Homo sapiens: one gene and its partners. The protein of the gene in region 1 interacts with the protein of each later gene in a pairwise test. Each region holds a gene or a part of one and is shown in the gene's direction. Other genes may lie near its edges.

Region 1 (7,026 bases):
ACGCAGCATGTGGAAGTCTTTTTAAAAATGTTAATCTATCTTCCTGTGTAGACACTGGCACCTTAGGTGAAAGAAGTGAAAATTTGTTGTTGTTACTCTTTCCATAATTCTCATAGGTTTGTCCTATCAGGTTATCGCCTAAGTGCTTTTTTGCCTAGATGCCTTTAAAAACGTTTGGAAATGACTTGAAAATATTCAGAGTGTATTTTAAACACTACTGTTACGCTACTGTAAGGTATTTACATTGATGTATAGATGTCATGTTATTCTGGTGATGTGTTTTTAAAATCTTCATTGTAAAGCCTAGTTAGCTAGTTTATATGTGATTTTTTAAAAAGCATAGCCTCTGGTACCATTTAATATCTACTGTTTGAAGCATGCAGTTGGAATCTTTATGTTAAAATATACAGACCTTTCAGATATTTTAAATAATACTTGTCTATTAGAGTGAAATTTTGAAACAAAACGTTTGATCAGTTATTCTTTGGAAGCTTCAAGTCAATTAATATGTTAACTTTTAAACATGACTGGCAGATCTCAGTATTTAAAGGAAATCTACTTCCTATTTGTTGCCATTAGCTGTAGTTACTTGAGATACTTGGTAGAGGTAAATATTGTAGCACAAATCCTTTTAGTAACAGTTACTTTTTAAGGACCTTTGCAACTTGACAATTTATATTTCAGGATTCTCCTGACATAGACAAAATGGCAAAGGTTACAGTTTTCTAGACTTTAGCTTTATAACCAAAATATGTTTTTATATATATTTATATATAAATATATAATATATGTAAATTATATAGTTATATATAACATATGACATATATAATTATAATAAATATATATTAAAAATTTTGGTCATATATACAACATATATAACTATATATAATTATATATAGTTATAATTATATATAGTTATATATAATATATAACAAATTATATATAACATAATTATGTTATATATAATTGTACATAACATATATACATATATAGGTATATATACGTATATATGTTATATATAATTATATATTATATATAAAATATAAATAATTATAAAAATATAATAATTATTAAAATATATGTTATATATAAATACAATATAAATTATATATATAAATATATAATTTATATATTATATGTGATATATATTATATATTATATATAATATAATATATAATATATATCACATATAATATATATTATATATAATTAATATATATAATTAATATAATAATATATATAATATATAATATATATGATATATATTATATAAATATATAAATATATTAATATATTAATATATAATATATATAATATATATTATATATTAATATTAATATATAAATATATTAATATATAATATATATTATATATTTATATATATAAAATATATAATTATATATAACATATATAATTATATGTATGTTGGTTTTTTTTTTTAGATGGAGTCTCTGTTGCCCAGGCTGGAGTGCAGTGCCGCAATCTCAGCTCACTGCAACCTCCAACTCCCGGGTTCAAGTGATTCTCCTGTCTCAGCCTCCCGAGTAACTGGGACTACAGACACCTGCCACCACACCTGGCTAATTTTTGTATTTTTAGTAGAGGCGGGGTTTCACCATATTGATCAGGCTGGTCTCAAACTCCTGACCTCAGGTGATCTGCCTACCTTGGCCTCCCAAAGTCCTAAGTTTACAGGCGTGAGCCACTGCACCTTGCCTATATATTTCTTAAAAACTACTTTCTTTTGATGACAAATCAGAAAAGTAGTTAGCTGAATGAAGGTAGAAATTCATTTTAATTGCAATATTAAATGGGAATTTTTCTTTTCTTTTCTTTTCTTTTTTTAGAGACAGGGTTTTCCTGTGTTGCCCAGGCTGGCCTTGAACTCCTGGGCTCAAGTGATCCTCCTGCCTTGGCCTCCCAAAGTGCTGGGATCACAGGCATGAGCCACCACACCTGGCCTTAAATGGGAATTTTAAATGGTAGAAGAATGGTGTTTATAAGGAAAAACATCTGAGAGAATGGAGAAAACCAGGAAGCTGGACTCTCCCTGTCTCCTTCTCCACTCTTCCTCTTGAGTGATGTAGTCAGCTGGATGCTAAGGAGGAGGAACACTCCATGGGCTCTATGAATCTCAAACATTTCTGAATATAAAATATTTTCAAGTGTTTATAAGCTTTTCCTAGAGTATCGTCCCATGACGAAGCTGATCTTCCTTCTCAATTCAGCATAGAAAATAAGGGTAACCTGAGAAAGAAGCAATGGTAATAAATAGACCCAGAGTATATTCTTCCAATAGGGGATTATTAAAAATAAATCTTGAAATTCTCTAATATTTCTTTTCTTTTTCTGTTAAGTTGCTATAGCCCAAGGTGGAACAATCCAGATTTCTAACCCAGGATCTGATGGTGTTCAGGGACTGCAGGCATTAACAATGACAAATTCAGGAGCTCCTCCACCAGGTGCTACAATTGTACAGTACGCAGCACAATCAGCTGATGGCACACAGCAGTTCTTTGTCCCAGGCAGCCAGGTTGTTGTTCAAGGTATATTTTATTAATCTAATACATTTAGAATACCTATGGATTACTATATCACACCATTGAGTGGTGATTTTATAGTTTTTTGAAATAGATCGAAGGTAGATGGTGGGGGGTTGGGAGGCACTTAAAAAGGCTTACAGAAGAAATATTTTAATACATTAAACAGCAAATTAAGTTTTATCATTTTTCGCCTTTTAGCAGGTTTTACTGGCTCTGGAGAAAGGCCAAATTCAGAGTAGCATGATAGAAAAAGAGAGATAGAAACATGAATGAATTTTTTTTTTTTTTTTTTGAGATGGAGTCTCGCTCTGGCGCCCAGGCTGGAGTACAATGGCGTGATCTCGGCTCACTGCAACCTGTCTCCTGGGTTCAAGTGATTCTTCTGCCTCAGCTTCCCGGGGAGCTGGGATTACAGGCATGAGCCACCACGCCTGGCTAATTTTTGTATTTTTAGTAGAGACGGGGTTTCACCATGTTGGGCAGGCTGGTCTCAAACTCCTGACCTCAGATGGAGTCGTCCTGACCTCAGGTGGAGGCCTCAGCCTCCTAAAGTGCTGGGATTACAGACGTGAGCCACCGCACCCGGCCACATGAATGAATTTTTAAATTAATTAGATATCCTTCATTTGGGGGTTGCAAATGTTGTACCTAATAGATTTCTATTACCTAATCTATGACAATTTAAGTATTCAGGCTATGATGCCCCAAATTTGTTTTTTTCCCTAGCTGTTACTTTCAAGTCTAATTTCTAGGCAACTCATTTCAAAACAAATGCTGACTTTGGGTTTTTTGTTTTTTTTTGTTTGTTTGTTTTTTTGACTGACTGTTCTTAGTTGTTTGAATTCTGAAGTATCCATTCTAGCTCTTATGGAAGCTGTCAGTAATGAAATAAAAGTTGAGATGTAGCCCTAAGCTTTTAGGGTTACCTGAGATTTCAACTGGATTTGCGTTATACATTATTTTAATTCAGTTGTGCCTATGATAACTGTAATAGATGTATTTAATACAGCTTTCAAAACTCCTGTGTTTTAATTGAATTCTATTCCTCTTGGTCCATTCGCTTAGGATTTAGGATATAGCACTATTTTTTAAAAATTTGCTTGCTTGTTTGTTTGTTTGTTTATTTATTTATTTATTTATTTATTTTTGAGACAGAGTCTCGCTCTGTTGCCCAGGCTGGAGTGCAGTGGCGCGATCTCGGCTCACTGCGACCTCCGCCTCCCAGGTTCAAGCAATTCTTCTGCCTCAGCCTCCCGAGTAGCTGGGACTACAGGTGCATAACGCCATGCCCGGCTAATTTATTGTATTTTAGTAGAGACGGGGTTTCACCGTATTGCCCAGGCTGGTCGTGAACTCCTGAGCTCAGGCAGTCCACCCACCTTGGCCTCCCAAAGTGCTGGGATTACAGGCAGCACTAACGTTAAGGAAAGTAAAATCAGTTATTTTAGTTCGAATGTCTTGCAGGTATGATAAGCATATTATAATTGATGAGTCTCTTGATAATTATACTCAGGTATTTTGGGGGTTAATGTGGACTATGGTAAAAGTGTGTGAAGAACTGAGGTGGTGGCATTTATGGAGTAAAAAATGCATAGTACAAACCCAGTACTTTAATGTTTTCTTGAAATGTAAAATGAAAGCCACCTGTTCTATTCCCCCCATACTCATGGACCATATTTATGTCTAGGTGAATAATCTTAAAGAATAATTATTTCTTCTCATTTTATCTTTGTTACATGGAAGAATCTACTGCAAACAACAGAGTTTTGAGAATTTTTAATGTTTTACACAATATGCACGTAAGTTTGTGCCTTGGGGTTTTTAAGAATTTTCTTCCACAAGTCACAAAGATTTTTTTCCACATTTTCTTCTATTTGCTTTATGGTTTTACCTTTCACATTTATGTCTTTAATGTATCTGGGCTTCACTTCTGTATATAGTATTTGGTGGGAATTCATTTTTAACTTTTTTCTCCGTATATGGAGCCACTCCCAAGGGTTTGTTGTTTCCTCACTGGTGTATGGGGCAGCCTTAATTAGACAGTGGGTTTGCTTTTGCACCTGGATCTGGCCAGTCTTCTGTCTGATTCATCTTTTTCTGAATCCCAGCGCCATACATGTTTGTTATCTCATAAAACAAGTTCCCCTTGTCTTTTTTCTCAGTTTGATACAGAGTTAGTTTTTTGTGCACGATTATTCTTTCATATGCATTTGGAATAAGTTTGAGTTTCTAAATAGTAGTAGTAATAATAATAATAATAAAACCAATGATGAGACTGCATTAATTTTTTTTTTCTTGAGATGGAGTCTCGCTCTGTTGCCCTGCCTGGAGTGCAGTGGCACGATGGCTCACTGCAAGCTCCACCTCCCGGGTTCACGCCATTCTTCTGCCTCAGCCTCCCAAGTAGCTGGGACTACAGGCGCCTGCCACCATGTCCGACTAATTTTTTTGTATTTTTAGTAGATACAGGGTTTCACCATGTTCGCCAGGATGGTCTCGATCTCCTGACCTCATGATCCGCCCACCTCAGCCTCCCGAAGTGCTGGGATTACAGGCATGAGCCACCATGCCCAGCCAAGACTGCATTTAATTTAGGGAGAGCTGAAGTCTTCATAATGTTAAGTTGACCTATCCCAAACCATAGAAAGTCTTGTTTATTCAGATCTCATTTTACTTCTTTTAACAGTTGAACATTTTTCTTTTTATTTATTTATTTATTTATTATACTTTAAGTTTTAGGGAACAGTTGAACATTTTTCTTCACGGAGATCTTGCATATTCTTTCTTTAGTTGGTTCCTAAGTACTTTATGGGTTTTGTTGCCATTACAATGGTACCTTATTTTGTATTGTATTTTCTAATTGTTGCTGGTGTAGAGAAATACGGATTATTTTAAGTCGATCTTTTATCTATTAACTTTGCTGAACTCTAATTACTTCTAATAATTTACTGATTCTTTGTGATTCGGTCTGTGATCCTATGTGAATGTTTATACAAATAGTGATGTTTTGTTTCCTCCCTTCCAATCTTTATTCCTGTTTTCTTTTTCTCTTTTTTTCTTTTCCTTAAATAATCATGGCCAGGAGCTCCAGTTTAAACACAGCAAGGCCAGTGGGCATTCTTGTCTTCCTGAACTTAGTGGCAGTGTTCCCTGCCCTCCTTCTCCCTTCATCTCACTGAAGGGCCCTGTCAGCTTCTTTGTGGATTCTCAGTGCCTGTCTTGGCTGATGCCTCAGCAGTATTTAACACTGTCGACTTCTGCTTCCTCCACTTCCTGAGACTGTGTCCTCCTTGCTCTTCTCTCTCTGCTGCTTCTCTGTCAGTCCTGTTGCTGGGCTAAGCTTCCCCTGCCCCTGTCCTGAGTGTTTCAGTGATCCTCAGGCTCACTCCCCCACCCTCTTCCTGCTGAGCTCCCTCCCTGAAGGACTCCCTCCCACGCTGGCTTCAGTTCACTGTGACTATGTCCTGACTCCAGCTGGTTCCTTAGATGGCCACACATACCTCTGACTCCTAAAATCCACTCTTCCTATCTTCAGTGATTGACCACTACTATCCTTGATGCCAGAAACCTAGGTGTTGTCCAGTATTCTTCCCAGTCTCCATTCAAAGTCACTGTGTAGATTCTTCTGCCTGGCTGAGCCATGAATGCTTCTGCCACTCCACAGCCCTCTGTCCTGGCCCTGGCCCTGGCCTGGGTGCTATCCCTCTGACCCAGGCTACCCCTGTGGGCTACAGTCTCCGGCAGCCACCGGAAGCTGGCTATTGTGGAACAGCTTTCTGATCCTCCTAATCATGCCAGAGGCAGCAGCTCCCTTCTTGGCTCAGTTTTTTGGGAATTGTTCCTGAAAGTTCAGCTAAACTCTTCATTCCTCACAGTGATTCTGGGAGCCACTGATAGTTCTTAAAAACAGCAGTTTCTTGCCCCCAACATCTCCATTACTGCATTGCACTTGTTTTGTTTTGTTTCGTTTTGTTTTGTTTTGAGACAGAGTCTCACTCTCTTGGCCAGGCTGGAACACAGTGATGTGATCTTAGCTCACTGCAACCTCTGTCTCCTGGGCTCAAGCATTTCTCCTGCCTCAGCTTCCCGAGTAGCTGGGATTACAGGCATGTACCACCATGCCCAGCTAATTTTTGTATTTTTAGTAGAGACGGGGTTACACCATGTTGGCCAGGCTGGTCTTGAACTCCTGAGTTTAGGTAATCCGTCCATCTCGGCATCCTAAAGTGCTACGATTATAGGCATGAGCCACCACACCTGGTGTCTGGGGTCTTTTTAATAAGGGCACTAATCCTGTTCACAAGGGTGTCACCCTCATGACCTCATCACCTCTCAGAGGTTCCACCTCCAAATACTATTGCATTGGAGGTGAGGATTTCAACAGAGGAAATTGGGTGGGGATACAAACATTCAGTCTATAGCATCCACTCAAAAGCATCCATCAATGTCTGTGACCTGTTAGACAAAGCTCCAAATCTTTCAT
Region 2 (7,026 bases), on another chromosome or scaffold:
CAAAGAGAGGGAGGACATGTAGGGAATATCACCATGTAATCTTTGTGGTAGATTTTGAAGTAATTTTGCCCCAACTATCAAGTATTTAGGAATAGGATCCTTTTTTTACTAACTCAAAGAATCAAATTTATCAGATTAGTTTTTACAATTTTAATGTAAACCACTTATGCTGATATTTCCTGCTGAGTTTACTTGACATTTTTTAAGTTTCTCAAAGATGCTCCTTAAAAATTTTCTTTTGTGACTGGGCACTGTGGCTCATGTCTGTAATCCCAGCACTTTGGGAGGCGGAGGCGGGCGGGTCACGAGGTCGGGAGTTCGAGACTAACCTAACCAACATGGTGAAACCCCGTCTCTACTAAAAATACAAAAATGAGCCTGGTGTGGTGGCGCGTGCCTGTAGTCCCAGCTGCTCCAGAGGCTGAGGCGGTAGAATTGCTTGAACCTGGGAGGTGGAGGTTGCTGTGAGCCATGTGCCATTGGACTTCATCCAGCCTGGATGGAGCAAGACTCCGTCTCAAAAAAAAATTTTTTTTTTAATTTTTATTTTTTTCTACCCTTTTTTTTTTTTGAAGACAGTCTCACTGTTGCCCAAATTGGAGTGCAGTGGTGCAATCTCGGCTCACTTCAAGCTCCGCCTTCTGGGTTCATGCCATTTTCCTGCCTCAGCCTCCCGAGTACCTGGGACTACTGGCGCCTGCCGCCACGCCCGGCTAATTTTTTGTATTTTTATTAGAGACGGGGTTTCACAGTGTTAGCCAGATGGTCTTGATCTCCTAACCTCGTGATCCGCCCGCCTCGGCCTCCCAAAGTGCTGGGATTACAGGGGTGAGCCACGGCGCCCAGCCTTTTTTTACCCGTTTGTAAACAATGTTTGATAAGTTTCCATTTTTTGATAACTAATTTTCATGCTGGACATAGCATAATTGAATTGGAATCCAGTTAACTATTTGGATTTGAAGTATGAAATAGGGCTCACATTAAGGAGTAGAGTAGGTGTTTTATTTAAGACTAGGTAATACTCTTCATTTATTTATTTATTTATTTACAGATGGAGTCTCGCTCTGTCACCCAGGTTGGAGTGCAGTGGTACGATCTTCGCCCACTGCAACCTCTGCCCACCGGGTTCAAGTGATGCTCCTGCCTCAGCCTCCTGAGTAGCTGGGGTTACAGGCGCCTGCCAACACACTTGGCTAATTTTTGTAATTTTAGTAGAGATGGGATTTCACCATGTTGGCCATATTGGTCTTGGAACTCCTGACCTCAGGTGATCCACCTGCCTTGGCCTCCCAAAGTGCTGGGATTACTTGCGTGAGCCACCACACCTGGCTTCTTCTTTTATTTTTATTTTCTTGAGACAGTCTTTCTCTGTCGCCCAGGCTGGAGTGCTGTGGTGCCTTGGCTCACTGTAACCTCTGCCTCCCTGGCTTAAGTGATTCTTGTGCCTCAACTTCCCAAGCAGCTGGGACTACAGGCATGCATCACCACGCCCAGCTAATTTTTTTTTTTTTTCGAGACAGAGTCTTGCTCTCTTGCCCAGGCTGGAGTGCAGTGGCGCTATCTCGGCTCACTGCAAACTCCGCCTCCCAGGTTCACGCCATTCTCCTGCCTCAGCCTCCCGAGTAGCTGGGACTACAGGCGTGTGCTGTCAAGCCTGGCTAATTTTTTGTATTTTTAGTAGAGACAAGGTTTCACCGTGTTAGCCAGGATGGTCTTGATCTCCTGACCTCGTGTGTGATCTGCCCGCCTCGGCCTCCCAAAGTGCTGGGATTACAGGCGTGAGTCACCGCGCCCGGCTAATTTTTTTTTTTTTTTTTTTTTTTGAGGTGGAGTTTCATTCTGTCACCCAGGCCAGAGTGCAGTGGTGTGATCTCTGTTCACTGCAATCTCCGCCTACTGGGTTCAAGCGATTAGCCTGCCACCGTGCTCTGATAATTTTCGTATTTTTTGTAGAGACAGGATTTTGTCATTTTGGCCATGCTGGTTTTGAACTCCTGACCTCAGGTGATCCACCTGCTTCGGCCTCCCAAAGTGCTGAGATTACAGTTGTGGACCACTGTGCCTGGCCTTTTTTTTCCCCCTGAAACATGGAGTATATGTTTAAAAAAAAAAAAAGTTGGAGCCTGGCTCCATGGCTCCTGCGTGTAATTCCAACGCTTTGGGAGGCTGAGGTGGAAGGATTTCTTGAGCAGGAGTTCGAGACCAGCGTGGGCAATATAGTGAGACCCTGTCTCTATAAAAAAAATGTAAAAATTAACTGGGCATGATTGCATGTACCCAGAGTCCCATCTACTTGTGAGGCTGAGGTGGGAGGATTGCTTGAGGCCACAGTGAGCTATGATTGTGCCATTGCACTCCAGCTTGGGTGACAGAGTGAGACCCTATCTCCATAAATAATAGGATCATACTTTGCATACTTGCTGATTTTTATTGAAAAATACAGCATAGTTTGGGTGTGGTGGCTCATGCCTGTAATCCCAGCACTTTGGGAGGCCGAGGCAGGTGAATCACTTGAGCCCAGGAGTTGGAGAGCAGCTTAGACAACGTGGCAAAACCCTGTCTTTACTAAAAATACAAAAATTAGCTGGGCATGGTGTGCTTGTAGTCCCAGCTACTCAGGAGGCTGAGGTTGGAGGATTGCTTAAGCCTGGGTGGTTGAGACTGCAGTGGGCTGTGATTGTGCCACTGCACTTCAGCCTGGGTGACAGACCCTGTCTCAGAAGAAAAACCCAAAAAACAGCATACATACCGTAGATGATATATGAGGCATAAAAACATGTAGAGTTGTCATTGTATAACGTAGAAGGTGGTTGGGGGTAAACACATATGTAGAGTTGTTTTTTTTGGAGACAGGGTCTTGCTTTGTCGCCCAGGATGGAGTGTCTTGGCATGATCATGGCTCACTGCAGCCTCTATCTCCCAGGATTAAGGCATCCTCCCACCTCAGCCTCCTGAGTAGCTTGGACCACAGGGATGCATCACCATGCTCAGCTAATTTTTCTTTTTGTAGAGAGGAGTCTTGCTATGTTGCCCAGGCTGGTCTCTTAGGCTAAAGTGATCCTCCTGCCTTGGCCTACTAAAGTGCTGAGATTACAGGTGTGAGCTTAATGCCTGGCCCCATATGTAAAATTAAAAAAAAAAAGTAAAATGAACAACCAAGAAATAGGACATTACTGCTACCTGGAAGTCTCCTGTGTATGCCAGCTCCCAAGGCATTTCTTTTCGCTTTCCTTGAGGTAACCATTACCCTACATTATAGGTTTACTATTCCTTTGTGTTGTTGTTTTAAAATAGAGACAAGGTCTAGCTATGTTGCCCAGGGTGGTCTTGAACTCCTGGACTCAAGTGATCCTCCTGCTTGGCCTCCCAGAGTCCTGGGATTATAGGTATGAGTCACTCTGCAGGTTCTACTGTTCCTTTTTTTTTTTTTTTTTTTGAGACGGAGTCTTGCACTATCGCCTGGGCTGAAGTGTAGTGGCCCGATCTCAGCTCACTGCAACCTCCACCTCCCAAGTTCAAGCGAATCTCCAGCCTCCATCTCCCGAGTAGCTCGGATTATAGGTGCCCGCCACCACGCCTGGCTAATTTTTTGTATTTTTGGTAGAGATGGGGTTTCACTGTGTTGGCCAGGCTGGTCTCAAACTCCTGACCTCATGATCCGCCCACCTGAGCTCCCAAAGTGCTGGGATTACAGGCATGAGCCACCACCCCAGCCTACTGTTACTTTTTTACAATAATTTTACCTTATATGTATATCCGTAAGCAACATATGGTTTAATAGTGCCCATTTTCAGTCTTATTCTCAATGTAAGAATTGTATGATTCTTCTGATGCTTGATTCTTTCACTCTTACATGCTTGAGATTTATCCATGTTGATTTCTTTTTTTTGAGATAGGGTCTCAGTCTGTTGCTCAGGCTGGAGTGCAGTGGCTCGATCCTGGCTCACTGCAACATTCACCTCCCGGGTTCAAGCGATTCTCCTTCCTCAGCCTCCCAAATAGCTGGGACTACAGGTGCCCGCCACCATGCCTGGCTAATTTTTGTATTTTTTGGTAGAGACGGGGTTTCCTTGTGTTAGCCAGGCTGGTCTCGAACTCCTGACCTCAGGTGATCTGCCTGCTTCGGCCTCCCAAAGTTCTGGTATTACAGGCATGAGCCACTGCACCCAGCCCCCATGTAGATTTCTTTTTTCTTTGTTTTGTTTTATAAGACGGAGTCTTGCTCTTTTGCCCAGGCTGGAATGCCAGTGGCACGATCTCGGCTTCTCAGCTCACTGCAGCCTCTGCCTCCTTGGTTCAAGCAATTCTCCTGCCTCGGCCTCCCGAGTAGCTGGGATTACAGACACCTGCCACCATGCTCAGCTAATTTTTGTATTCTTAGTAGAGACGGGGTTTCACCATGTTGGCCAGGCTGGTCATGGACTCTTGTTTGTTTTTTTTTTTTTTTTTGAGATGGAGTTTGCTCTTGTTGCCCAGGCTAGAGTGCAATGGTGCGATCTTGGCTCACTGCAACCTCTGCCTCCTGGGTTCAAGCAATTCTCCTGCCTCAGCCTCCCAAGTAGCTGGGATTACAGGCAGGCACCACCATGCCTGGCTAATTTTTTTTTTTTTTTTTGCATTTTTAGTAGAGCTGTGGGTTCACTATGTTGGGCAGGCTGGTCTCGAACTCCTGACCTCCAGCGATCTGCCCACCTCGGCCTCCCAAAGTGCCGGGATTACAGGTGTTAGCCATCGTGCCCGGCCCGTTGATTTCTTATAGTAGTATGAGGTTACATTGTAAGGATGTGCCATATGTTGTCTATTTCATTGTTGATGGATATTTGTCTCATTTCCAGTTTTTTGAGATTACCAATTTTACTTGTCCTCATGTGGACATTTGCCACCCTGCCCACAACAAACAAAGTCCATTTTCTCAAGACTACATAACTGAGAGTGGAATTTTTGGTTTGTATGTAGGGTATGTGTAACTTTTACTAAGTAATGCTAAAGTGTTTTCCACATGTTGCACAGTTGTTCTCAGGCTTGTCAGCTGAACCACAGAACACAGAAAGTTGAGTTACTATTTTCTCAAATCTGTCAAGGATGGTACATAATGAATTTCATTCTAGGTGTCTGGAAAAAGTTCAGCTTATACACAGAGTGGATGCCCTAAGAATTGGGAATTCATTCTCAAAGACTGAGTGGTTTAAGAGTTCTACATCCTTGCCAACATTTTATGTTGCCTTTTTAGTTTTAGCCAATTGTAGTGGGATGTTCTAGATATATCTTTCATGAACGCCACATAGCTGGATTTTGCTTTGTTAAGTTAGCAACTTGCTAACTTCTTTTTAATTAATTAGAGTGTATCGCTATGTTGGCTGGGCTGGTCGTGAACTCCTGGGCTCAAGTGATCTTCCCACCTCACCCGCACAAAGTGCTGGGATTGTAGGAGTGAGCCATCAGCTAACCTCTTTAACTAGAGCATGGAGACCATTCATATCTGTTGTAATTACAGATATTTTGGATATATGTCTGCCATTATATTTAGTCTTCTAGTTGGCTGGCCTGTGTGTTTGTTTTCTGTCCCTTTTTTTTTTTTTTTTTTTTTTTTGAGACAGAGTCTCATTCTGTCACCCAGGCTGGAGTGCAATGGCGTGGGCTCGGCTCACTGCAACCTCCGCCTCCCGAGTTTAAGGGATTCTTCTGCCCCAGCCTCCCTAGTAGCTGGGACTACAGGCACGTGCCACCACACCTGGCTAATTTTTTTTTTTTTTTGAGACGGAGTCTAGCCCTTGTCGCCCAGGCTAGTGTGCAATGGCGTGATCTTGGCTCAACGCAACCTCCGCCTCCTGGGTTCAAGTGATTCTCCTGCCTCAGCCTCCCAAGTAGCTGGGATTACAGGCATGTGCCACCATGCCCCCGGCTAATTTTGTACTTTTAGTAGAGTCGGGGTTTCTCCATGTTCATCAGGCTGGTCTTGAACTCCCGACCTCAGGTGATCGCCCGCCTCGGCCTCCCAAAGTGCTGGGATTACAGACGTGAGCCACCGTGTGCGGCTTGTATTTTTTTTTTTTTTTTTTTTTTTTTAGTATTTATTGATCATTCTTGGGTGTTTCTCGCAGAGGGGGATTTGGCAGGGTCATAGGACAATAGTGGAGGGAAGGTCAGCAGATAAACAAGTGAACAAGGGTCTCTGGTTTTCCTAGGCAGAGGTCCCTGCGGCCTTCTGCAGTGTTTGTGTCCCTGGGTACTTGAGATTAGGGAGTGGTGATGACTCTTAACTGCCTTCAAGCATCTGTTTAACAAAGCACATCTTGCACCGCCCTTTATCCATTTAACCCTGAGTGGACACAGCACATGTTTCAGAGAGCACGGGGTTGGGGGTAAGGTTATAGATTAACAGCATCCCAAGGCAGAAGAATTTTTCTTAGTACAGAACAAAATGGAGTCTCCTATGTCTACTTCTTTCTACACAAACACAGCAACAATCTGATTTCTCTATCTTTTCCCCACATTTCCCCCTTTTCTATTCGACAAAACCGCCATCGTCATCATGGCCCGTTCTCAATGAGCAGTTGGGTACACCTCCCAGATGAGGTGGCGGCCGGGCAGAGGGGCTCCTCACTTCCCAGAAGGGGTGGCCGGGCAGAGGCGCCCCCCCCACCTCTCGGACGGGGCGGCGGCCAGGCGGAGGCGCCCCCCAACTCCCCAACGGGGCGGCTGGCCGGGCGGGGGCTGCCCCCCACCTCCCTCCCGGAAGGGGCGGCTGGCTGGGCGGAGGCTGCCCCCCACCTCCCAGACGGGCCGGCTGCCGGGCGGAGACGCTCCTCACTTCCCAGACGGGGTGGCTGCCGGGCGGAGGGGCTCCTCACTTCCCAGACGGGGCGGCTGCTGGGCGGAGGGGCTCCTCACTTCTCAGACGGGTCGGCCGGGCAGAGACGCTCCTCAACTCCCAGACGGGGTCGCGGTCGGGCAGAGGCGCTCCTCACATCCCAGATGGGGTGGCGGGGCAGAGGCGCTCCCCACATCCCAGACGGGGTGGCGGGG
Region 3 (7,026 bases), on another chromosome or scaffold:
GAAACCCTATCTCTACTAAAAAAATACACACAAAAAAATTAGCCGGGTGTGGTGGTGGGCGCCTGTAGTCCCAGCAACTCAGGAGGCTGAGGCAGGAGAATGCTGTGAACCTGGGAGGCGGAGCTTGCAGTGAGCTGAGATCGTGCCACTGCACTCCAGCCTGGGTGACAGAGTGAGACTCCATCTCAAAAAAGAAACAAACAAAAAAAACAAAGGTGACCACATAGACTTCTGAGAGATGCATCTTGAGGCCTTGTCTCCAAGTTCTCAGCTAAATGGCCACTGCTGACCAAAAGCGCACTCGCAGGACACTCCAAGGCAAGGGGTGTTCCTCACATTGCCCTTGACAACACTGCCACGCTGGTCACTCACCTGACCCCATGCTGCTGGGAGCGGGGCAGGGATGCAGCCCCATCTTACAGAGGACCCGCTTCCTTCTGCAAAGAGACCAAGTGGTTCTCAGGGTGGGTGCACACAGCCCCCCAGTGCACCCTGCACCTCCACAGGCTTAGGGCCTGCCAGCCACCCTCCCCCAAGCAGGAAAGGAGGAGCTTTTTTTGTTGTTTTTTGAGACAGGCCGGAGTGCAGTGGTGTGATCTCGGCTTACTGCAGCCTCAAACTCCCCAGGCTCAGGCGATCCTCCCACCTCAGCCTCCCGAGTAGCTGGGACCACAGGTCCCTGCTTCCACGCCCAGCTATTTTTTTTTTTTTTTTTTTTTCCGAGATGGAGTCTCACTCCGTCGCCCAGGCTGGAGTGCAGTGGCGCGATCTCAGCTCACTGCAACTTCTGCCTCCCTGGTTCAAGCGATTCTCCTGCCTCAGCCTCCCGGGTAGCTGGAATTACAGACACCTGCCACCACGCCCGGCTAATTTTCGTATTTTTAGTAGAGAGAGCGTTTCGCCATGTTGGCCAGGCTGGTCTGGAACTCCTGACCTCAGGTGGTCCGCCCTCGGCCTCCCAAAGTGCTGGGATTACAGGCATGAGCCACCGTGCCCGGCCACCGGCTGATTTTTTTACTTCAAACGGGATTTTTCCATGTTGCCCAGGCTGGTGTAGAACTCCTGCACTCAAGGGATTCTCCTGCCTCGGCCTCCCAATGTGCTGGGCTTACAGGCGTCAGCCACCGCGCCTGGCCTAGAAGGAGCTTTATTCAGAGCAGGACTCCAACCAGCTCCCTATTAGCCTAGTGATCTCAAGCCTCAGTTTCCCCATCTGTGAGATCGGGAAAATGACAGCAGCTACTGCCAGGCAGGGTTGTAGAGGGGTCATTGAATCCATGGACAGATGGGCCTGACACGTGGTCAGTACCTAATGGTCCTTTACCCCCTCTGGTGTATGACCCACCCCAGGCCAAGGGGCCCTGGAAGAGACTGTCTTTTCCGGGCCTTAGTTTCCCTGAGTGTGCTGGGTCGCCCCGTGCCTTCCAGTAGGGAGGGTGGGGACAGTGGCCGGCCCCGCCTGCCAGGGCGGGATCCTTGGCTACCTGGCCTGGCCGGGGACTGCGGGCGGGGGGCCGGGTGGCTCCGCCAGCGCTGCAGCTGGGGGCCGTCTGCTCGGGCTGCGGTCGGGCACACAATAGCAGCCATTGTCTCGGCCAGGGTGGCGGGGGGCCCGCCCAGCCCACCCTCCGGGTGACCCCCGCCCTGCGGTGGGTGGGAAGGGCAGGGCCCGGTCCCCCGAAGCCCCCGCCGTCCCGGTGGTCCCCGCGGCCGCCCCCGCGCGCTTCCTCCCTCGCCGCAGCCGCTTCCTCCCGCTCGCCCCGCTCTAATTAGTTCCTTTTGCAGCTGGAGGAGCCGCGCAGCGGCCGGTTCCGCGGCCACCCCCACCCCCCACCGACAACCCCAGCCCTCGCCCCAACCCCTGGGCCCTTGCGTGTGGGGGCGCTGCCCTGGGCGCATCCCAGGCTGAGTGCTCGAGAGACGCGGCCCTGGGCTCTGTGCACCCTCCACGCTGCGCTGTCCCACCGGGGGGAAACTGAGGAACGGAAGGCTCCACCAGGAGGCGCAGAGGGGCGTGGGGCCGGCGGGCCTTGCGCTGCGCCCGGGGAGCATCCACGGGGTGCCCCCACCTGACCGAGAGCCGGCTCCTGCCCTCGGGACCCCGCAGTAATTAGCACCCAGGCCTCTGGCTGAGCTTGTCCAGAGCCAGGCTGTCGGCCTTACGCTGGGGAGAGCCACGGCCACCCGCTCATGGGCACTCACTCAGGGTTCCCTGGTTGCAGGCCCGCTGCTCCCCGCTCTGGGCCTCCGAGGCTTTCAGGAGAGCAGGAACCTAGCTCTCGCCTGCCCCCTTCACCCAGCCGGGAACAAAAGCACAGAGCAGAGCCCAGAACTGGCTGCTGCCGGTCGGGGCGGGGGTGGAAGGGGAGGCTTTAAGCCTGGCCAAGGTCAGAACTGAAGCAGGGTCACTGACCGTCTCCCCTCTGGGGTGGGGCCTCCATTGGAGGAAAAACTCTGGGTGGGGAGGGCCTGGAACAGGGATGCTGGGAGGTGTAGGGCTGGGGGCAGCTCCTTCCTTTCCCGGGGGCAGGGACGCAGGCCGTGTGCCGGGCTCTGGCCTGCATTGGAATGAACCCCTGCCTCCCTGGCAGGACCCAGTGGCAGGAAGTGTGTGGGGGTGCCCCTGGGGACTGGACCTGCTGATGAAGGGGGTGCATTGGAGTCCTCCCTCTGGCTTTGGGCCGTGTGGCTGGCCCCACCTGGGGAGACAGGCTCCTCCTGGGGAAGTGTCCCCTGCAGGCCCTAAGAACAAGGTGACTCAGGGCCCCTGGCTCCCCGAGTCCCCATCTGTCCTGGGAAGGCAGTGGGGCAGGTGCCAAAGGATGTTGCTTGGGCAGCGCTGCCAGTGAGTGTCCCCGTCAGCTGGAATTCCCAGTTCCCAAACCATCCTGCCCTTGTGGTCCCCTTCTCCGGAAGGGTGGGGGTGGGGGTGAGGACAGAGGCTGTGGGGAGGCCTGTGGCCCCAGGCCAGCCAAGGGACCAGGCCACCAGCCCTTCCTGGCTCCTGAATTCTTCATCAGCATAAATATTTACTTCCTTCCTCCCCGTCCAGGCTTCCAGCACAGAGGAGCTTCGGGGAGGCTGGATTGCGCCTGTGTCTAAAAATAAACAGGTAGCAGGACGATAGACACACAGATAGACAGATGGAACTGGCAGGGGTTCAGGCAGAGGGCAACTCCCTGTCCAGCCAGAGAAACAGTGGAGGGGACCCTGGTCCATCCATCACTGTCACCCACCCACCTGCTAGCGGGGGTGTGGTCCCTACCCCACCGCATCTCTGGGAGCCCCTGGCCCATGCATGGCCTGGGAGGCAAATTCAAACAATCTGACAGCTCCAACAGGGGCGAATCGCAGACCTAGGTCCCACGGCCTAGTGCAGCTGCCCTGGCTCTGATGATGCAGCCTTGGGAGAGGTGGGCAGCCCCCCTGTGCTGAGACCCCCGTGTCAGCCATGTTGGGGTGGGGTCTGGGGATGTGTCCCTAGAAGCAGAGGATCTCCAGTGAAGGGGGGACCATTTTATGCCCTACTTGCTTGGAGAGTCAGGGCAGAAGGGGAGGACGTGGGAGCTGCCTTCCTGTCCTGCCCTGTGGACAGCATCTCTCCCCACTCACAGGCTATGCTAGCCCCCAGGGAAACACACGGGGGCATATCCAAAGTATTTCACCATGTAGTAGTTATGTCCACCATGGCCGCCCTTTGGTATTGAGTAAAGACCCCAATACCGCGAAAGACGGGATCTCACAGCGTGATTGTGCGGCAGTTAGATTTTCAAGTTGTAATAATCCCAATGAACAAACGCAAGGAAATGTCGTGTTTAACCGCGTAGGAAAAGATTGCTGCTCTGAATGTGAAGTTTGGGTTTAGAATGAAGTGTTGACCTTGTTCTTGGGTCGGTGGATACTGTTAGATCATTTGCATGTGAGGAAAATTACACCAGGTGGGGCGAGGTGGCTCACACCTGTAATCACAGCACTTTGGGAGGCCGAGGTGGGCAGATCACCTGAGGTCAGGAGTTTGAGACCAGCCTGGCCAACATGGTGAAACGCTGTCGCTACTAAAAATAGAAAAATTAGCTGGGTGTGATGGTGTACACCTGTAATCCCAGCTACTTGGGAGGCTGAGGCAGGACAATCGCTTGAACTCGGGAGGCAGAGGTTGCAGTGAGCCCAGATCACACCACTGCACTCCAGCCTGGGTGACTGAGAGACTCCATTTCCAAAAAGAAAATGAAAATTAAACCAGTGAGAAATTCTAAGAAAAATGATGAAAATTACAGCATGGGAAGTGATACTAAAAGAATACCATCTCCAGTAAAAAATAATTTCTACATATTTATATATTAACCGCCAGATACAGCTGGTCAACTCCACCAACCCTGCCCCAGCTGGCCAGGCCAGGCCACAATCCCCAGCTGCCCCCTGGTGGCGACCCAGCGCCCTGGGGCTCCCTGGCTTGCGATGCCTCTCCTCTAGGCCTCTGCAGGGAGGGCGGTGGGGCCCCTGGCTGTGCCCACTTTCTCGGTTTGCCTGGTGCGAGTTCCTTGGTGGTGAGCGTGGCTACCTGCCGGCCATTTCAGAGGATGCTCCTTGCCCCCTGGCCTGGTTCTAGATCTTTGGGGTCAAACAGGGCGGGAGTCCGGAGCATGGCTCCTGCTCTGTCAGAAAAGGCTGTTAGGACACGGCTAGCCAGTTCCCGGGAGATCTGGCTTCAGGCCTTGAATCTTGTTGGGAACAGGCCCCCCAAAATCTGGCTGTAAACTAGCCCCAAAACTGGCCATAAATAAAATCTCTGCAGCGCTGTGACATGTTCATGATGGCCATGACGCCCACGCTGGAAGGTTGTAGGTTTACCAGAATGAGGGCAAGGAACACCTGGCCCACCCAGGGCGGAAAAACTGCTTAAAAGCGTTTGGCTTTTTGTTTGTTTGTTTGTTTTTGAGACGGAGTCTTGCTCTGTCGCCCAGGCTGGAGTGCAGTGGTGCGATCTCGGCTCACTGCAAGCTCTGCGTCCCGGGTTCACACCATTCTCCTGCCTCAGCCTCCCGAGTAGCTGGGACTACAGGCGCCCGCCACCACACCTGGCTAATTTTTTTTTTTGTTATTTAATAGAGTTGGGGTTTCAGCGTGTTAGCCAGGATGGTCTCTATCTCCTGACCTCGTGATCTCCCCGCCTTGGCCTCCCAAAGTGCTGGGATTACAGGTGTGAGTTACTGCGCCCGGCCACAGGCGTTCTTGAACCACAAACAATGGCATGAGTGATCTGTGCCTTAAGGACACGCTCCTGCTGCAGATAACTAGCCAGACCCATCCCTTTATTTCCCATAAGGAATACTTTCAGTTAGTCTATAATCTATAGAAACTATGCTAATGACTGGCTTGCTGTCAATAAATACGTGGGTAAATCTCTGTTCAAGGCTCTCAGCTCTGAAGGCTGTGAGACCCCTGATTTCCCACCCCACACCGCTATATTTCTGCGTATGTGTCTTTAATTCCTCTAGCGCCGCCGGATTAGTCTCCCGACCGAGCTGGTCTTGGCAAATCTGATAGTTTTTCCACTTCTGAGCTCTGCGATCTGAGGCGATGCCTGTAAAAGACGCAGTTTCGCCAAGCGTGGTGGCTCAGGCATGTAGTCCCAGCGTTTTGGGAGGCCAAGGCAGGAGGATCGCTTGAGGCCAGGAGTTCGAGATCAGTTTGGGCAACATGGAGAGACCCGATCTCTACAAAAAAGAAAATTTTTTTTTTTAATTAGCCAGGAGCGGTGCCTGCCTGTAGTCCCAGCTACCAGGGAGGCTGAGGTGGGAGGATCGCTTGAGCCTAGGAGGTCGAGGCTGCAGTGAGCTATGATTGTGCCACTTGCACTCCAGCCTGAGTGACAGAGCGAGACTCTGTCAGCAAATAAAATTCAGTTTCATGGCAAAATGAAGAATGTGAGCTTTGTCTTCCCCAAGAGACTCATGGGAAGCAGATGCGGAATCTCTGAGGAGGCTGTTGGCTCTCCCCCCATGATAGCTGCCGGCCAGGTCGCTCGGAGGGTCTCCCTACCCAGGAGACAACCTCACACTGCCCCCTGCTCCTGCTCCTGTTAGACTGTCATGAGTACAGCCCGAGGAGAAGCCTGGGGTCTCAGTGCCACAGCACAGCTCCTGTCCTTCCCCAGGTTCCTGCGTGAAGACCAGCTGGGAGCCCACTGCCTGCTGCCACCTCCAACTCCGGCCCCCTCACCATGCACTCCCTGGACGAGCCGCTCGACCTGAAGCTGAGTATCACCAAGCTCCGGGCGGCAAGAGAGAAGCGGGAGAGGACGCTGGGTGTGGTCCGGCCCCGTGCTCTGCACAGGGAGCTGGGCCTGGTGGATGACAGCCCCACACCTGGCTCTCCAGGCTCCCCGCCCTCAGGTACTGGCCCTGGGCAGGGCAGGGGGACTTAGCCCTGATCCAGTCATGGTGACAGGGAGAATGGCCAAGTGTGTCCACCAGCATGTAGCTGCAGCCCCTCTCGGCTTCCGGTTCATGGGAAGCCCGCACGCTTGTCCTTCCATCCGCCCAGCATCGTATGTCTGCAGGGAGGTGGGAGCTGCAGTGCCCAGCTCACGTGGCTGGCACACGATGCAAACTGAGGCCTCTAGGCAGATCTGGAACAGAGCTGGTCGGGCAACCAGGCATTCAGAAGGAGCGGCAGTAGTCCCAGGACCTGCACCCTAGGCTGTGGGGTGGTGCCGCTGGCCAACCTGGGCAGTAGAGGCTGGGTCTGAGCCCAGGAGGTGCCTCTCAGGGATTCCCGGTGCTTGGGCCCAGGGTGGTGGGCACCACTTCTGCCCTGCCTCCAAGAGCAGAGTCACCCGAAAACCAGATTCACCGCTTGTCTGAAGGGGAAGGCTATGGGAGCAGCCCAGCCCGAACCTGCCACTTTACAGAAGGGAACACTGAGGCAGGAAGGGGCCTGGGAAAAGCTAGAAAGGTTCCTACCTGCCCGTCTGACAGGGACCCAGGGGCCCTGGGTTCGAGTCCTGTTCTGTTATTAACCCTG
Region 4 (7,026 bases), on another chromosome or scaffold:
GTCCATCCCTGCAGCAGTCAGACCACAAGTCCTGCTGGGGGATGTCTGCACAGACTCGGAGGCCTGACTGACGCCCTGGGCCTAAGTCCTGGCCTCACCCCTTACTGGTGCGTAATCTTGGGCAAGTTGCTCAACCATTTTTCTTTTTGGCTTCAGGATCTCCCTCTGTAAAACGAGAATAAGTGTACTACCCATTTTGTCCAATTGTGGTGAGAATAAGACAGTTTATTTCAAGAGTATTCCATAGCACATGGCACTAGTAACTACTCAGTAAATGTTAGCCATTGCCAACAAAACAATAATGAATGGGAAAGCTCAGGCGGAAAACCCATTTTTCCCCCCTTTTCCCAGGCCTTTACATGTCTGGCAAGGGTGTGGCATTTCCATTTGAAAGTTTGTGCTCTTGTTTGGATCAGAGATCAGATGCAGGGGAGAAAACGTTGCTGCAGAAAGGCCCCCTCAGCTCCAAGTGCCTTCAGTTTTATTCCTTTTGATTGCAGAAGCCAAATCAGCCTCAGCATCATTAGTGTTTTTTGGCCCTATTTATAGTTGTTCTCTCTCGCTTCTGAGCTCCTCATAGACAGGTACAGAAGAGAGTAGTCCAGTTTTGTTTAACAGACATACAAGCTGGTACCTCCTCCGTACCAGGCCCCACACTTGGAGCTGGACAGGTAGTGATGAGTCAGCGATGAATCCCTATGTCCCCACCCCAAGTTTTCCAAACTTGGGAAAACTTGGCCTCTAAGAAGTTATACGGCCAGGCGCAGTGGCTCACGCCTGTAATCCCAACAGTTTGGGAGGCTGAGGCAGGCGGATCACTTGGTCGGGAGTTCGAGACCAGCCTGACCAACATGGTGAAACCCCATCTCTACTAAAAAAAAAAAGTACAAAAATTAGCTGGACATGGTGGTGCCTGCCTGTAATCCCAGCTACTCAGGAGGCTGAGACAGGAGAATCGCTTGAACCCGGAGGCGGAGGTTGCAGTGAGCCGAGATCGTGCCACTACTCTCCAGCCTGGGTAACAGAGTGAGACTTCGTCTAAAAAAAAAACTTATACTTACTAGAGCCCAAAAAGGCATTCTTCTATGTCCCCTCTGCTCCCCAGGTTCCATCTTAGCCCACATCCAGAAGCAAAAGCACTTCAATGAGCGAGAAGCCAGCCGAGTGGTGCGGGACGTTGCTGCTGCCCTTGACTTCCTGCATACCAAAGGTGAACCCAGCCTTTGCCTTGGTGGGTGGGTTGGGCTGGCCAGCCTCTGGGTACCAAGGGAGGTGGTAGGCCAGGCAGAGGGCTGGTGCAGGAGATGGTGTGGCTGGAAGGCAGCTTGAGGTGTGAACATGCTCACCCATGGGAGTTGAGGGAGAAACAGTCCAGGATGGCTCCTAGGCTTATGCTGCGGATGGTGGGTGGGTGGTGAAGCTGTTGAGCAGCACAGGGATACAGGAGAAAGAGCAGGGAGGAGAAAGAATAAATTTCACATTGAACAGGGTATGTGTGACTGTGTGTGGATGATGTTTCTTTTCTTAGATTCTTATCGTGTGAGGAATATAAAGCTCATACACAATACAACCTTCTTAGTGTGAATATCTTGATGTTATTCCTTCTAGTCTTAAAATATACATCACCTCTGTCTCTTTTCAAAATTGGCATGATAGGATATATGTAGTTTAATATATCTTGTTCACAGTAAATGAAAAATCTATTTTTCTTTTTCCTTTTTTTTCCTTTTTAGACAAAGTCTCTCTCTGTCACCTAGGCTGGAGTGCTATGGCGCCATCAGGGCTCACTGCAGCCCCAACCTCCCTGGGCTCCAGTGATCCTCCCACCTCAGCCTCCCAAGTAGCTGGGACTACAGGTGTGTGCCACCACCTGGAAATTTTTGTATTTTTTTGTAGAGATGGGGTCTCCCTCTGTTGCCCAGGCTGGTCTCAAACTCCTGGGCTCAAGCGATCCTCCTGCCTCAACCTCCCAAAGTGCTGGGATTACAGGTGTGAGTCACTGTGCCCAGCTTATACTTTTCTATTAACATGTACATTTGAGGTATCTGTTGAAAAGCACATTGGTAACTCACAGGTTACTAGTATTTGATTTACGCTTCAGGTTACAGCCCCTTTCCTATGACTGATTATTCAGGAACTTTTGTAGTGAATTAAATCTTTCCACAAATTGTTTTTACATTTCCATAAATCTGTTTGACTATTACATACTTTTTTTTAAATTTGCCTAACAGCAGTACCCTGGAAAAAATGAATTCTGGTTTCACTTTTCTTCTAGCTATGTGTTCTCTCAGTAATAATGCCTACCCTATGGTGAGAATTTGAGATAATAACATCATCGACTGTAGTTAACACTATATAGCACTTGGTATGTGCTAGGCACTATTCTAAGCTTTTTATAGATGAAAAATGTGTATCTTGTGTTTGTATTGTATATGTGCAGCATAGATGGAGCATAGTTCCTGGTATGTCATAGTTCTTCAATAAATAACGATTTCCTCCATCCTCACCTCCCACCAGGAAGAAAGCATTTTTATTCCTAATATTAATTCCCTTAAAGCATTCTGCCTGTTGGGGGTGGGAGTGAAATGAATAACTTGTGACTTAGGTCTGCCCCCTCTGCTGTTGCGGATGTTGGCCAGCCATGTTGGTTGTGGGTGCCCGGGACCAGTGGTAGGCATGCCACTCACACATCCCACCTGGTGCCCACAATCCGGTGCAGACCAGTGTGGCGCATGTCCAGGAGGTTCAGGTTCATTGACCCCACCTCCCTCCTCCAGTGGCTGAAAGAGGTCTGCATACTGACAGTGCCCATGTTGGGGCCCTGACTTGCACCTAGGATGAAAACTAGAAGGGGGTGTCTGTACCTTCCGCAGCATGATGAATAGCATCAGCTCTGTTTCTGAAAGCTGGGATGCATAGAGGTAACACCTGCCTGACAAAGATTTACAACTGCTCCCCAAGCTGCCTCTGTAGATTGCAAAACTGGGTCACGCTTTTTACAAGATCCACACCTTGGAGGGGGTGGTAAAGGCAGGTTTTATTATTTATTTATTTACAAGAATGCACTGAAGGGAACAGAGGCCGGTGGTGTCTTAGGAGTTCTGAGGCGCTTGTTAACATGTAGCTGGCCAGCTGCCCATGTGACTAGAAGTTGGAGGGGATGAAAAACGATTTCCAGCTGAACTTGGCTGTTTGCTAAATAACTTCACACGGGGAAGATGAATTGGGCAAGAATGGGTCAGCCCTGAAACAAGTTCCATACTTTTAAATACTGGACACACTGCAGCTCAACCTCTGGGAAATGAACCGGAGCAGCTCGATGGCTGCTGTGCTCACACGGCAGCCCCATTATTACAGCCTGGCTCTCTGAGTTCTTAGGCTAAGGGACGACTGGGCCATGGGCGCCTATTTGGAGAGTAAGGCTCCGTGTGTGGCTCGTGATCCTTCTGTGGGAGCACTTGCTGTAATGGAAAATATCTTCCACTTTTAGTGCAGCGAGCTGCAGAGCAGTGCTACTCAATTTGTGCAGCCTGGACTGAGTTGCTCTGGGTTCTCGTTCAATTAGGTGACTGATGAAGTTACTGAGCTTGCTGGAGCTCAGGTTTTTCTTCTTTAGTGAAGTGCCTCCCGTGGCCTGGGCCAGGCTTTTGCCTTCTAGTCGGGAATCGGAGGACTGCTGAAAAAGTTGATCACCGACGGAGTTTTAGTGAAGCAGATTTTGCTTTTCCCATCACCCCGAGAATCCGCTGCCGCTTTCCAATACTTCCAACTGTAGCTCTGACTCTTGCTCAGCCTTCCAGCCCTGTCTCTGTGCTGCATGTGCTGTGGAAGGAAAGACAAAAGGGAGGTTTCTGTGTCCTCCACCAAAACACCATGACCCAGAGTTAGTTCTTTGTCCCTTTCTTTGGTTAGAAGAGGGCTCTCCCCGAGGTGCCTTCTTGGCCAGGTCAGCAGGTTAACCCCTCATGGGCTAAGCTGCTATCTCCAGTCGCCTTCAGGAGGCCTGGCCAAAGTGCAGAGGTTTTCTCTTAAAAACAGCAACCCTCAGTGGGCCTAGCGAGGTGGCTCACACCTGTAATCCCCATGCTTAGGGAGGCCAAGGGAGGAGGATTGCTTAAGGCCAGGATTTCAAGAACAGCCTGGCTATAGCGAGACTCCATCTCTATTTTAAAAAACAAAAATAACAGCATCCTGGTGCCAAAGCGGTCTTTGCTCTGCTGCTGGCAGGGCTGCCTTAGACATGCAAAGCAGGTGAGAAGGGAATAGGTCACTTTGGGAGATTTGGTAACTAACACTTGCTCCTCTGAACATTCAGACAGTCGCACTGAAGGAATTTTTTTTTTTAAATCGGCCACACAAGAAGAAATGAGGTAGAGCAGTTAAGCCCCCTGAGATGCTCTTAAACAAGGCACTAATTATTTCTGCATTGCTGTTCCAAGCATTGCCGTTTGCAGAGCTCTCTGCTCTGCTCTGCATTAGGCCTTCTTCTTGGTGGTCACTGTGGTACTGAGGGGTAGGCTGGCTGGGATTCATTTAGCCCTTCTTATCCCTGCCAGACTTCTAAAGCCTCCTCTTCAAAAGAACCCGCAGAATCAACTGTGCTTTTGGTTTGTGTCGCTGGTTACTTCTGCCTCCTGCAGCTCGTTGATTTTTTAATGTACCATAATTGGGAATTAATCTGCGAACTACAGCATTTGGAAAAAATTAATTGTGTGTGGAATGTTTGATAATTATCTGCATATGTTAACCATTTTTTTGCTCTTTGTCATGTCAGGCATTGCTCATCGTGATCTGAAACCAGAAAATATATTGTGTGAATCTCCAGAAAAGGTACTTTGGGCCTGATTTGGAATGTTATAGTTTATACTTACCGAGGAAGCCACCCTTGCTTTCAGGATGGATTGTTAGCAGTTCCGTTGGCCTCAGACACCAACTTGAACTGATCGTCTTGGACATGTGAGAATGTTACACTTACTGTGTGATGTTTCTGCCCATCCTCGTCCTTTCTTCGCTCTTGATCATCAGTGTGATTGATGTAAGCCTGAGAGTTTGGAAAATATATGAGACCTGCACAAAATTAATATTTTCTAGTCCAATGCATCTATCTTTATATCAGTTGATGGAAGTCGTAAATACTTTTTTTTTTTTTTTGAGACGGGGTCTCACTTTGCCACCCAAGCTGGAATGCAGTGGCATGATCACAGCTCACTGCAGCCTCGACTTCCCAGGCTCAAGTGGTTCTCCCACCTCAGCCCCCCAAGTAGCTGAGACAACAGGCATGTGCCACCACACCTGGCTAATTTTTGTATTTTTAGTAGAGACAGGGGTTTCACCATGTTAGCCAGGCTGGTCTCGAACTCCTGAGCTCAAGCAGTCCACCTGCCTTGGCTTTCCAAAGTACTGGGATTGCAAACGTGAGCCACCATGCCCAGCCAAACAACTTAATCTTATGTGAAGCAGATCTCTTTAAGTAAACGGAAGTGTATGAATTTGACAAATTCTGTGTTTATTAGGAGAGATTTAGGCACTGGTGGTGTTGGGGCCCACGTTCACAGCTCTGCGTGTATATACATGTGTGTATTCAAGAGCATATATATTGTGGTCTGGATGAAGCCGCGGCTCATAAATAAGGGGTGGCCTTGAATGAATGAGTCAGTCTGCTACTCACAACTCTTTTATGGGGAATAATAATGGATTCGCTCAAATAAGATCTTGTGACTTCTGTCACTGATTCTGTCGTAGACCTTTATAATTTATCATTATTATGATGATTACTACTAATAATTACAGTGAACACTTCTTGAGTGCTTACATTGTGCCAGGCACTTATATTTATTTAGTGTTTATGAAATATCATGAGGTAGATACTATTATTACCTTCATTTTATGGACGAGGAAACTGAAACTCAAGTTAGGAAACATGTATAGCCAGTGAGCCATGATTGCACCACTGCACTCCAGCCTGGGCAGCAGAGATTCTGTCTCATAACAAGAACGTGAGGAAAGGCAAGGCGAAAGAGAGGAATAATTGGGACCAGGCAGTGGCTCACGCCTATAATCCCAACACTTCGGGAGGCTGAGGCAGGAGGATCCCTTGAGGCCAGGAGCTTAAGAACAGCCTGGGCAACAAAGCGAGACCCCATCTCCACAAAAAATTTAAAAATTAGCTGGTCACAGCGGTTGCATGCCTGTAGTCCCAGCTACTCAGGAGGCTGAGGTAGGAGAATTGCTTGAGCCTGGAGTTTGAGGCCAGCCTGGGTGATATAGTGAGACCCCTGTCTCTTAAGAAAAAGAGAGGTTAAGTTTCAAAGGACATTATCTATCAAGAAAGTGAAAAGACAATCTACAGAATGTGAGAAAATATTTGCAGATCATATATCTGGTCAAGGTTTAATATCCAAAATATATAAAGGATTCCTAAAACTCTACAACAAAAAGACAAACCAATTTAAAAATGGACACGGGACTTGAACAGACATTTCTCCAAATAAGGTACACAAATGTCCAACAAGTACATGAAAAGATGCTCAACATCCTTAGTCATTAGGGAAATGCAAGTCAAAACCACAATGAGATACCACCACATACTACTAGGTAGGCTGTAATTTAAAAAATGGAAAATAGTAAGTGTTGTTACGGTTATGGAGAAATCGTAACCCTCATACATTGCTGGTGAGATTATATAATGGTGCAGCTTCTGTGGAAAAGTTTGGCGGTTCCTCAAAGGCTAAACACAGAATTACCATATGACCCAGCAATTCCACTCCTAGGTATTACCCAAAACAATTGAAAACAGATACTTGTATAGCAGTATTCATTACAGCATTGTTCACAACAGCCAAAAAGGTAGAGACAACTCAAGTGGTCATCAGCAGCTGAACAGATAAACAAAATGTGGTACATACATTCAATGGAATACTAGTCAGCCATAAAATGGAATGAGGTTTTGATACATGCTGCAACATGAATGAACCTTGAAAACATTATGCTAAGTGAAATAAGCCAAACATAACAGGACAAATATTG

What was found.
Region 2: the proteins of CREM (region 1) and UBAP2 interact in binary tests that used the Homo sapiens proteins (3 or more experiments, as listed by UniProt).
Region 3: the proteins of CREM (region 1) and GLIS2 interact in binary tests that used the Homo sapiens proteins (3 or more experiments, as listed by UniProt).
Region 4: the proteins of CREM (region 1) and MKNK1 interact in binary tests that used the Homo sapiens proteins (3 or more experiments, as listed by UniProt).

What each region holds. Positions count from the first base shown.
Region 1 is NC_000010.11:35,185,843-35,192,868, forward strand, and holds part of CREM (cAMP-responsive element modulator), read left to right. Parts: intron 1-2,357; coding exon 2,358-2,546; intron 2,547-7,026.
Region 2 is NC_000009.12:34,038,888-34,045,913, reverse strand, and holds part of UBAP2 (ubiquitin-associated protein 2), read left to right. Parts: intron 1-7,026. UniProt on the Homo sapiens protein: Recruits the ubiquitination machinery to RNA polymerase II for polyubiquitination, removal and degradation, when the transcription-coupled nucleotide excision repair (TC-NER) machinery fails to resolve DNA damage. May promote the degradation of ANXA2.
Region 3 is NC_000016.10:4,326,058-4,333,083, forward strand, and holds part of GLIS2 (zinc finger protein GLIS2), read left to right. Parts: intron 1-372; exon of another isoform or gene 373-437; intron 438-2,202; exon of another isoform or gene 2,203-2,283; intron 2,284-3,052; exon of another isoform or gene 3,053-3,112; intron 3,113-6,157; 5' UTR 6,158-6,223; coding exon 6,224-6,395; intron 6,396-7,026. UniProt on the Homo sapiens protein: Can act either as a transcriptional repressor or as a transcriptional activator, depending on the cell context. Acts as a repressor of the Hedgehog signaling pathway. Represses the Hedgehog-dependent expression of Wnt4.
Region 4 is NC_000001.11:46,566,247-46,573,272, reverse strand, and holds part of MKNK1 (MAP kinase-interacting serine/threonine-protein kinase 1), read left to right. Parts: intron 1-1,105; coding exon 1,106-1,210; intron 1,211-1,733; coding exon of another isoform or gene 1,734-1,856; intron 1,857-3,017; exon of another isoform or gene 3,018-4,774; coding exon 4,775-4,830; intron 4,831-4,975; exon of another isoform or gene 4,976-5,067; intron 5,068-7,026. UniProt on the Homo sapiens protein: May play a role in the response to environmental stress and cytokines. Appears to regulate translation by phosphorylating EIF4E, thus increasing the affinity of this protein for the 7-methylguanosine-containing mRNA cap.